Homo sapiens: one gene and its partner. The protein of the gene in region 1 purifies or fractionates together with the protein of each later gene. This does not show direct contact. Each region holds a gene or a part of one and is shown on either strand. Other genes may lie near its edges.

The links.
Region 2: the proteins of NUP42 (region 1) and HELZ purify together in Homo sapiens (affinity purification with mass spectrometry; one large-scale study listed by BioGRID and IntAct). This does not show direct contact.

What each region holds. Positions count from the first base shown.
Region 1 is NC_000007.14:23,187,687-23,192,705, reverse strand, and holds part of NUP42 (nucleoporin NUP42), read right to left. Parts: intron 1-5,019.
Region 2 is NC_000017.11:67,234,247-67,239,265, forward strand, and holds part of HELZ (probable helicase with zinc finger domain), read right to left. Parts: intron 1-5,019. UniProt on the Homo sapiens protein: May act as a helicase that plays a role in RNA metabolism in multiple tissues and organs within the developing embryo.

The DNA.
Region 1 (5,019 bases):
CCACTCCTGAGACAGCAAGACCACACCCACCTATCCCTCTGCTACTCAACATAAAGACAATAAGGATGAAGACTTTTATGATGATCCACTTCCACTATGTGAATGGTCAATATATTTTCTTATCCTTATGATTTTCTTTTTCTTTTTTTTTTTTTTTTTGAGATGAAGTCTTGCTCTGTTGCCCAGGCTGGAGTGCAGTGGCATCATCTCGGCTTACTGCAACCTCGGCCTCCTGGGTTCAGGCAATTCTCCTGCCTCAGCCTCCACAGTAGTTGGGATTACAGGCATGCACCACCAAGCCCGGCTAATTTTTTTTGTATTTTTAGTAGAGATGGGGTTTCACCACATTGGCCAGGTTGGTCTCGAACTCCTGACCTTGTGATCCACCCGCCTCAGCCTCCCAAAGTGCCGAGATTACAGGCGTGAGCCACCGCGCCTGATCCGTTATGATTTTCTTAACATTTTCTTTTCTCTTACAGTACGTTATTAGTAGTTAAGCTTTTGGGGAGTCAAAGCTTATACGTGGATTTTTGACTGCACAGAGGATCAGTGCCGCTAAACTTTATGTTGTTCAAGGGTCAATTGTATACATAAACAAGAAATATGTTTGTGTGTGTATATGTTTCGAAAGAAATATACTAAAATGTAGTAGTTACCTCTGTGATATCAGGTTATTTTTATTTTATTTATATATTTCTGTACTTTCCAAGTTTTCTAAAGCAAAAGCTGTAACTTGTTTTTTATTTTTGAGACACAGTCTCATTCCTGTCACCCAGGCTGGAGTGCAGTGGCTCACTGCCGCCTTGACTTCCTAGGCTCCAGTGATCCTCCCATCTCAACCTCCTGAGTAGCTGGGACTATAGGAATGTGCCACCACACCCTGGTAGAGACAGGGTTTCGCCAAGTTGCCCAGGTTGGTCTCAAATTCTTGGGCTCAAGTGATCCACCTGCCTCAGCCTCCCAAAGTGCTAGGATTACAAGCATGAGCCACCACATCTGGCCCAAAAGCTGTAACTTTTATAATTGGGCAAACTTACTAAGAAAGGCAAAAAATGTTCAAGATATTTTCTACAAAGAATTCCTTGTAATCCAGTTATTATTAACTCCAAGGACACCTGCTTCAGAGTAAAGGAAAGACTAAATGTTTCCCTGGATTCCTTCTAATGACTTGTCTTCCCCATCTTTACTGACCTCTCAGGCCAAAAAACCCTAGGAATCACCTTGGATTTCTCTTTCCCTATATCTAGTTAATCAGCATCCTGCCAGTTCAAGCTCCAACAGAGAACCCAAATATGACCAATTCTGTCTTCACTGCTATGAACTCTAGTCACAAGCAGCAATGTCTTCTAACTTGTCTCCCTATCTCTACTTTTGCCACGGCTCCCAACAGACCTTTCTCCCCCCTCACACAGCATGCTGAGTTAGCTTTTTCTAATCAGATCACGTCCCTCTTTTGCTTAAAGTTCTTCATGGCTGCCTGCCCAGTGCAATTAGGCCCAACATGATCTGGCCCCTGGCTATCTCTCTGGCCTTACTGTCATATTACTTTCCCTTGTTTACTCTCCTCCAGTAATTCAGGCCCCACTAGTCTGTAAACACTGCCAACCTTGTTCTTACCTCAGGGCCTTTGCAATAGCTAGTCCTACTGCCAGGAATGTTTTCCCCAAATCTTCCCATAACTGATACCCTCTCTTTATTCAGGACTCATTTCCAATACTGTCTCCCAGGAATAGATAACCACTCTATCTAAAGAAATATTGTTCCCCTAATTGCCTATTCCTTCCAGCTGTGCTCAACCAGAATTCCTCATCCAAACCACAGAACACAGAAAATGATTTGAGTGATAATTTTCTCAAGTCTTGCAAAATGGGGCAAAAGTAGTATCATTCTTTTTTTAATTTTTTATTTTTATTTTTTATTATACTTTAAGTTTTAGGGTACATGTGCACAATGTGCAGGTTTGTTACATATGTATGGGCAAGGACTTCATGTCTAAAACACCAAAAGCAATGGCAACAAAAGCCAAAATTGACAAAAGTAGTATCATTCTATTATAGCTGCATGGAAAAAGTTAATTTATTAATACAATGGATGCCTAAGGACAGAAGTACTCAAACTTTTGGTCTCAGTACTCCTTTACATTCTTAAAAATCATTAAGGACCCCAAAGAATGTTTGTTTACAAGGGTTACTTACATTGATAATTACCACATTTGAAATGAAAACTGAGAAACTTAGTATTAATTCATTTAAAAGTAAGAAAACAATTACTTATCTACATAAATGAAAAAGCTATTTTCCAAAACAAAAAATGAAAATTTAGTAAGATGAATAGCCTTGCTTTATGTTTATACATCTCTTAATGTTTGGCTTAATAGAAGACTGCTGGATTCTTACATATGCTTCTGCATTCATTCTGTTGCAATATGTTGTTCTGACTGAAGTGTATGAAGAAAATGGGCATTCACACAGACACGTATTGGAAAAGGAAGACTTAAATGGCTTTTTCAAATAACTGTGGACATTTTTCTTTGATACTACACCAAAACTTAACAAGTGGTAGTTTTTTAAAGGTTAACTATAACATAGACTCAAGCCATACTAATGAACTTTTTGTGGCATTATATTAACATTCACTGGTTTATCATGCATGTAGAATGGACTTTCAGCCATGCATAATTTTGTAATATCACATATAAGTCATTTGAAAAATGCCAGTTCACTGAGTTATGCAGAACTTCTAAACATTGGCACGTTATTATACAACATCAAAAAAATTTTTTTTTTTTTTTTTGAGACAGAGTCTCACTCTGTCACCCAGGCTGGAGTGCAGTGGCACAATCTTGGCTCACTGCAAGCTCCGCCTCCCAGGTTCATGCCATTCTCCTGCCTCAGCCTCCCAAGTAGCTAGGACTACGGGCGCATACCACCATGTCTGGCTAATTTTTTGTATTTTTTAGTAGAGATGGGGTTTCATCGTGTTAGCCAGGATGGTCTCCATCTCCTGACCTCATGATCCACCCACCTCGGCCTCCCAAAGTGCTGGGATTACAGGTGTGAGCCACCGTGCACAGCCAAAAAAATTTTTTAAAGAGACAGGGTCTCGCTCTGTCACCCAGGCTGGAGTGTGGTGGCACCATCAGAGCTCACCATAACTTTGAACTCTTGAACTCAAGTGATCCCCCCACCTCAGCCTCCAGAGTAGCTAAGAGTCTTGGCATATGCCATCATACTCAGGCTAATTTTTGTATTTTTTGTAGAGACAAGGTCTTGCTATATTGTCCAGGTGGTCTCAAACCCCTGGCTTCAAGCCATTCTCCCACCGCAGCCTCCCAAAGCACTGGGATGACAGGCATGAGCTGCTGCGTGTGGCCCTCACATTTGTGAATGTTGCCATCCATTTAATCAGAAGAGATTTTAAGTACTGAGAAGCCATCATGCTCACGATGACAAAGTTTTCCGTAATTTCAATTTTTGCTTGAAAGTTTTAATTTTTTTCATTGGCAATAAACACTATCAACTGTTTTCTTCTAAATAACCATAGTTGTCATTCCTTTCAAATAAATATTGTCTTTGAAAAAAGTGGCTAGCTCAGTCCAACTTGAACAATTACACAAGATTGTTCATCACACTTGGGCATGGGGCAGACACACTTTTTGTGTGCTTCCCATTTTGTCACACAGAATACTAAAAAGGTGCGTACTCAGGGTCAAGGGTTAACAAAATTAATAATTTTTATCTCTTCATAAAGGAAGTTCTTAAGTTCAAATGGCATTAAACATTTTTTTATTGTGACATCTACTAGTAATTTATTGCCTCTGCCTTGATTCTTGCTAAGATACAAGTAGTTCTACTCCTCAATGCTGCTGCACCAACAGTGCAAATGTCAACACAGTGAAAAATGGCAATTAATCACTTAGTATTATCAGAAAATATTTTTGAACTCAGGCAACTCCTAAAAGGGCCTCAGGGATAAAGTTGCCAGACTTAGCAAATAAAAATACAGGATGCCCAGTTAAATTTGAATTTCAGATATACAATAAATACTTTTTTTAGTATAAATGTGCCCCAAATATTACATGGCATGTACACATACTAAAAACACTGTTTATCTGAAATTTAAATTTAACCGGATGTCCCATATTTTATCTGACAACTATATTCAGGAATCCACATTTTAAGAACCACTGCTTTAGGGCAACAGGCATTAGGTTCAATTTGGAATGGATTAATACTCAAGTACTAATACTTAAGCTGATTAAGGGCTTAATACTTTGTGGTTTCTTTATAGAAAATATCATTATCTGAAATTATCTTAGTTTATTTGCATCACTTATTGTTTTCCTCCCTCAAGAATGTAAGATTCATAAGGAAGGGATCTTGTCTGTCTTGCTCATCACTATATTCCTAGCACTTAGCACAAAAGAAATTCAGTAAATATTTGTTAAATGGACAAGTGAATAAATAAGAAGCGTTGTAATGCAAATGCTCACAGAAAATGAGCAACTAGAACTGAGACAGAGGAAAGATCCCAAGGTTCTGCGATATTGATTGCAAGAGCTCCCATTTGCAAGGTACCCACTGTTTCCTCAAAAGGACGGAGGCCCAGGAACACCCAGAGTGGGCTTGGGAAAGCCCGGTGGTCTAGGTTTCAGCCCAGAAAGGGCTTAGGGACTATGGACAAAAAAAAAAATAAAAATAAAAAATAAAAAAAGAGAGAGAGAATATTCTAAAGCAAATGCTATTCCAGGCCAGAGAGAGAGAGAGAGACAGAGAATATTCTAAAGCAAATGCTATTCCAGGCCAGGTGTGGTGGCTCACGCCTATAATCCCAGCACTTTAGGAGCCTGTGGCGGGCGGATCACCTGAGGTCAGGAGTTCTAGACTAGACTGGCCAACATGGTAAAACCCCGTCTCTAGAAAAATACAAAAATTAGCCAGGTGTGGTAGCGGGCAACTGTAATCCCAGCTACTCGGGAGGCTGAGGCAGGAGAATCACTTGAACCTGGGAGGCAGAGGT
Region 2 (5,019 bases), on another chromosome or scaffold:
TAGGAGGCAGAGGTTACAAAGAGCCGAGATGGAGCCACTGTACTCCAAAAAAAAAAAAAAAAGAAAGAAAAAAGAAAAAAAAAAACACAGAGATACAGAATTAATTGTTCCCACCCTACCCCATCTAATTAGTCACCACATCTCTCCATTCAACCTCCAAGATAACTCTTGAATCCTTTCCATGGCCACCAACTCAATTCAGGTTCTCATCGCCCTCACTTAGACTACTATGAACCCAACTAAAGGCCCTGTCTCTCAGTTCTCTTCCCTACAATCCATCATACTCATCCTTACTCTAACATTCAAGAAATTCCAAGGCCAAGCGTGGTGGCTCAGGCCTGTAATCCCAGCACTTTGGGAGGCCAAGTGCTTCAGGCCAGGAGTTCAAGACAGCCTGGGGAACATAGCAAGACCCCTAACTTTATAAAAAATAAAAATAACAAAAAGTTAAATATTAAAAAAAAAACTCCCCAAAACCCAGTCCTGACCTATTGGCAGTCTTACCTTCCATTATATTCCTTTATGTATCCTAGGACCCAGGAAACTTGGATATGCAATTTCCTGACACCCACATTTCTGACATAACCCCCAGACTTCCCTCCAGAATGCCCTCTTCCCTTTGCTTCTCGGCTTCCTGGTGGTGTGATTTAAATGCCACCTCTTCAGTGGAAGTGTTCCCTGATATCCCCAAGAAGGCAGTATCGCTCCCTCCACTTAATCCCGAAGTACCTTGTATGGCCCCCTTCAATGGCACCTATGAAATTCCTATTAGTCCTTTCATTTTGGGGTGCCCCATTCTCTCTACAGATAATTAGTTCCTTGTCAACGGAACAATGTTTCCTTCATGTTTGGATCCCTCAGAACAGAGCTTCTCAAAGGGTGTGCCATGGCACACTGGTATGCCCTGAATGAGTTAAAGATGGCCTAGACAGTGGTGGTCTTCTCAGCAATCCAAGCAGCCACAAAGAGACAACAGAAGGCCGGGCGCGGTGGCTCACACCTGTAATCCCAGCACTTTGGGAGGCCAAGGCGGGTGGATCACGAGGTCAGAAGTTCAAGACCAGCCTGAACAACATGGTGAAACCCCGTCTCTACTAAAAATACAAAAATTAGCAGGGCATGGTAGTGCGCACCTGTAATCCCAGATACTCAGGAGGCTGAGGCAGGAAAATCACTTGAACCAGGGAGGCGGAGGCTGCAGTGAGTCGAGATCGTGTCACTGTACTCCAGCCTGGGCAACAGAGCGAGACTCCCTCACAAAAAAAAAAAAAAGAGAGAGACAACAGAAGCCAGAACCCACAAATGGTCAAGCCTCAAGCAGTGTCCTGCTTCAACCCAGCACATGCCATCACAAGAACTTGAGAACCACTCAGAGGAGCAGTGATACAAAGGGGCTCACAGCAGATGCCCAATAAATACTTGCTGAACTGAATCCTGGAATAATCCATCTGTTCCCCTTCAAACACTCTTCCCAAGATCATTTACCATTTTGACCACACACTCTTTTTTTTTTTTTTTTTTTTTTTTGAGACGGAGTCTCCCTCTTTTGCCCAGGCTGTACGCAGTGGTGCTATCTCTATCTCGGCTCACTGCAAGCTCCACCTCCCGGGTTCACACCATTCTCCTGCCTCAGACTCCCGAGTAGCTGGGACTACAGGCACCTGCCACCACGCCCGGCTAATTTTTTGTATTTTTAGAAGAGACGGGGTTTCATCGTGTTAGCCAGGATGGTCTCGATCTCCTGACCTCCTGATCCGCCCGCCTTGGCCTCCCAAAGTGCTGGGATTACAGGCGTGAGCCACTGCACCCAGCCTCGACCACACACTCTTGTGAACAATTTTTACTGACCATATTATACCAGCCTTACCATTCAAAGCCTACAATAGTTAATTGCATAATATAGCAACTGATATCAACAAACAGTTCACCATAAAGAGGCTCAAATAGTTAAATTCAACATTATATAACAAAGAAATGAAAGTGCCATTTTACACTATTAAATTCACAAAAACTTCTGAAGAAAAATGGTTTTCTCTACTACTTATGGTAAAACAGGTATATCCATATATCTGTTAGGAGCACAAACTGGTATAACACCCTTGAAAACAGTAGGACAATATATGTGAGGAGCCATAAAAACACTGATACCCCTTAACATAATAACACACTCCAAAATTTATCCTTAAGATATCATTAGAAAAAATGCAACAGTATCTACAATGATGTAGATTAAAGTGTTAACTGAAAACCACCCAGACAGCAGTATAAATACTTCACATAAAAAGACTTAGGTAAATTGTAGCATGACTTGATGAAATTATTTTTGCAGCCTTTCAATATATAAAGTTAAATTATAAAATCTATAAGATGTAAATGTTTCATGATATAGTAAGTTTTTAAAAATCAAACTATAATGTATCATAATTTAAAATGAATTTTAAAATGTATATTTTGAAATGAAATGCCAAAAAGAAAATCAATTGTCTTAGGATAATAACCCAACATTTAACAATTTATTTATTATCAATTTATTCAACATTAAATAATAAAGTTCTACCCTACCAAGGAAATGAAGGGGTTCCAGGACACAAGCTTGATAAAGTCTCAAAAGGACCACCCCTCCCTTCTACTGCTCACTTTGGCCTTGACTGAGTGTTTTCATACTCTCCTTGGTCATGATGACCTATACTAACCCAAACCCCAGTTTTTCAAGGACCAGCCAACTGCCTCAATTGGTCCTCTGATCATCCCTATGAACCCGTGGGAGACAAATCATGCAAAACAAGCGAACACTCAAGAAACAAAGAACCTGGCCGGGCGTAGTGGTTCACGCCTGTAATCCCAGCACTTTGGGAGGCCAAGGCGGGTGGATCACCTGAGGTCAGGAATTCGAGACCAGTCTGACCAACATGGCAAAGTCCCAAGCTACTAGGGAGGCTGAGGCAAGAGAATCGCTTGAACCCAGGAGGCAGAGGTTGCAGTGAGCCGAGATCCCACCAGTGTACTCCAGCCTGGGCGACAGAGTGAGACTCTGTCTCGAAAAAAAACAATTTTTTTGATTTATTTATTAGTTTAACATTTATTACTTTAACAATTTACTTATTTATTACTTTAACCAATCAGCAAGTAGTCAGCCCAAGTTTCACTGTAAACCCTAAAAATATACAATATTGCCACATTAAAGTCTCTGGGATTCTCAAGGCTAACTTGCTGACTTAGCAGTGGACTGTATCAGTTAAAAGGCAGTGTGGACTCAGACAATCAAAGAACCAGGGGCCAGGAGACCTGAGAACAATTAAAAGCAAAATGTAGATAGATTTTTTTTTTAACTACAAAAAACACAAAGCTAAAAAGTCCAGCTTAAACCAGATGAGTAAAAAAATAGCTGGAGATATTCTTTTAAGTCTTAGCCAGAGTGCAAAAGGGAGGATGGAAAGTCATTTTATTAAGAGCTGAAGCTAGCCCGGCACAGTGGCTCACACCTGTAATCCCAGCTCTTTGGGAGGCCAAGGCGGGTGGATCACTTGAGGTCAGGAGTTCGAGACCAGCCTGACCAACATGGTGAACCCCCATCTCCAGTAAAAATACAAAATTAGTCAGGCGTGGTAGCGCACACCTATAGTCCCAGCTACTTGGGAGGCTGAGGCAGGAGAATCACTTGAACCCAAGAGGCAGAGGTTACAGTGAGCTGAGATCGCCCCATTGCACTCCAGCCTGGGCAACAAAAGCAAGACTCCATCTCAAAAAAAAAAAAAAAAAGACCTGAAGCTTTTTGCGGATGAAGATATCTCACAAAAGACAAGTACTGAAAATTCATGGCCAGGCATGGTGGCTCACACCTGTAATTCCAGCACTTTGGGAGGCCAAGGCAGGTGGATCATGAGGTCAGGAGTTTGAGACCAGCCTGGCCAACATAATGAAACCCCGTCTTTACTAAAAATACAAAAAAATTAGCCAGGCATGGTGGCAGGCACCTATAATTCCAGCTACTTGGGAGGCTAAGGTAAGGAGAATCGCTTGAACCTGGGAGGCAGAGGTTGCAGTGAGCTGAGATTGCACCACTGCACTCCAGCCTGGGCGACACTGCCAAGACTCTGTCTCTCAAAAAAAAAAAAAAAAAAAAAGGAAGAAAATTAATTTAAAAATAATTTTAGGTCGGGTGCGGTGGCTCACGCCTGTAATCCTGACACTTTGGGAGGCCGAAGCGAGTGGATCACCTGAGGTCAGGGGTTTGAGGCCAGCCTGGCCAACATGGTAAAGCCCTGGCTCTACTAAAAATACAAAAAGTAGCTGGGCATGGTGGCGGGCGCCTGTAATCCCAGCTACTCAGGAGGCTGAGGCAGGAGAATTGCTTGAACCCAGGAGGCGGAGGTTGCAGTGAGCCGAGATCGTGCCATTCATTGCACTCCAGCCTAGGTGACAAAAGCGAAACTCCGTCTCAAAAAAATAATAATAATTTTAACTCTGATGCCTCATAAGGAAAGTATTAAAAGCCTTCTAATTTATTTCTGTAGTATTACCATTTTCTAAGTGTAATAATGAAAGACGAAGACACCATAGCTGACCAAGAAGATTAATTACTGTGAAATAATAAATACTCAAGACTAAACTGTTTTTAATTAACAGGTATTTCAGCAAAAAGTAAATAATCTGAAAGACTAATAGTATCAATAGAGGTAGTACAACCACTAGGAAAAAAAGTTCAACCTTTTGTTTCTATTGATATGTTCTCCATATTTAGATCCTCAAAACTGCAGATATATACAGTCATTCATGACACTATGTAAATAGCAGATAACAGGAAAAACAATTCAATACTTAACCAAGTTCACTGGAGCACAAAGTAATCGCCACTCAAGAATGCTGACACAAAAACTGAAGGACCTCTCAAGTTCCAATAGCACGCAGATAAGCTGAGCCCCTATGCAGTTACTCATCTGAACAGAAGTGGAAGATTAACCTACCCTCACTCATTTCACACACTAACCTGACAAGGCAGCAGGCAGTCTCTTCGGAGCT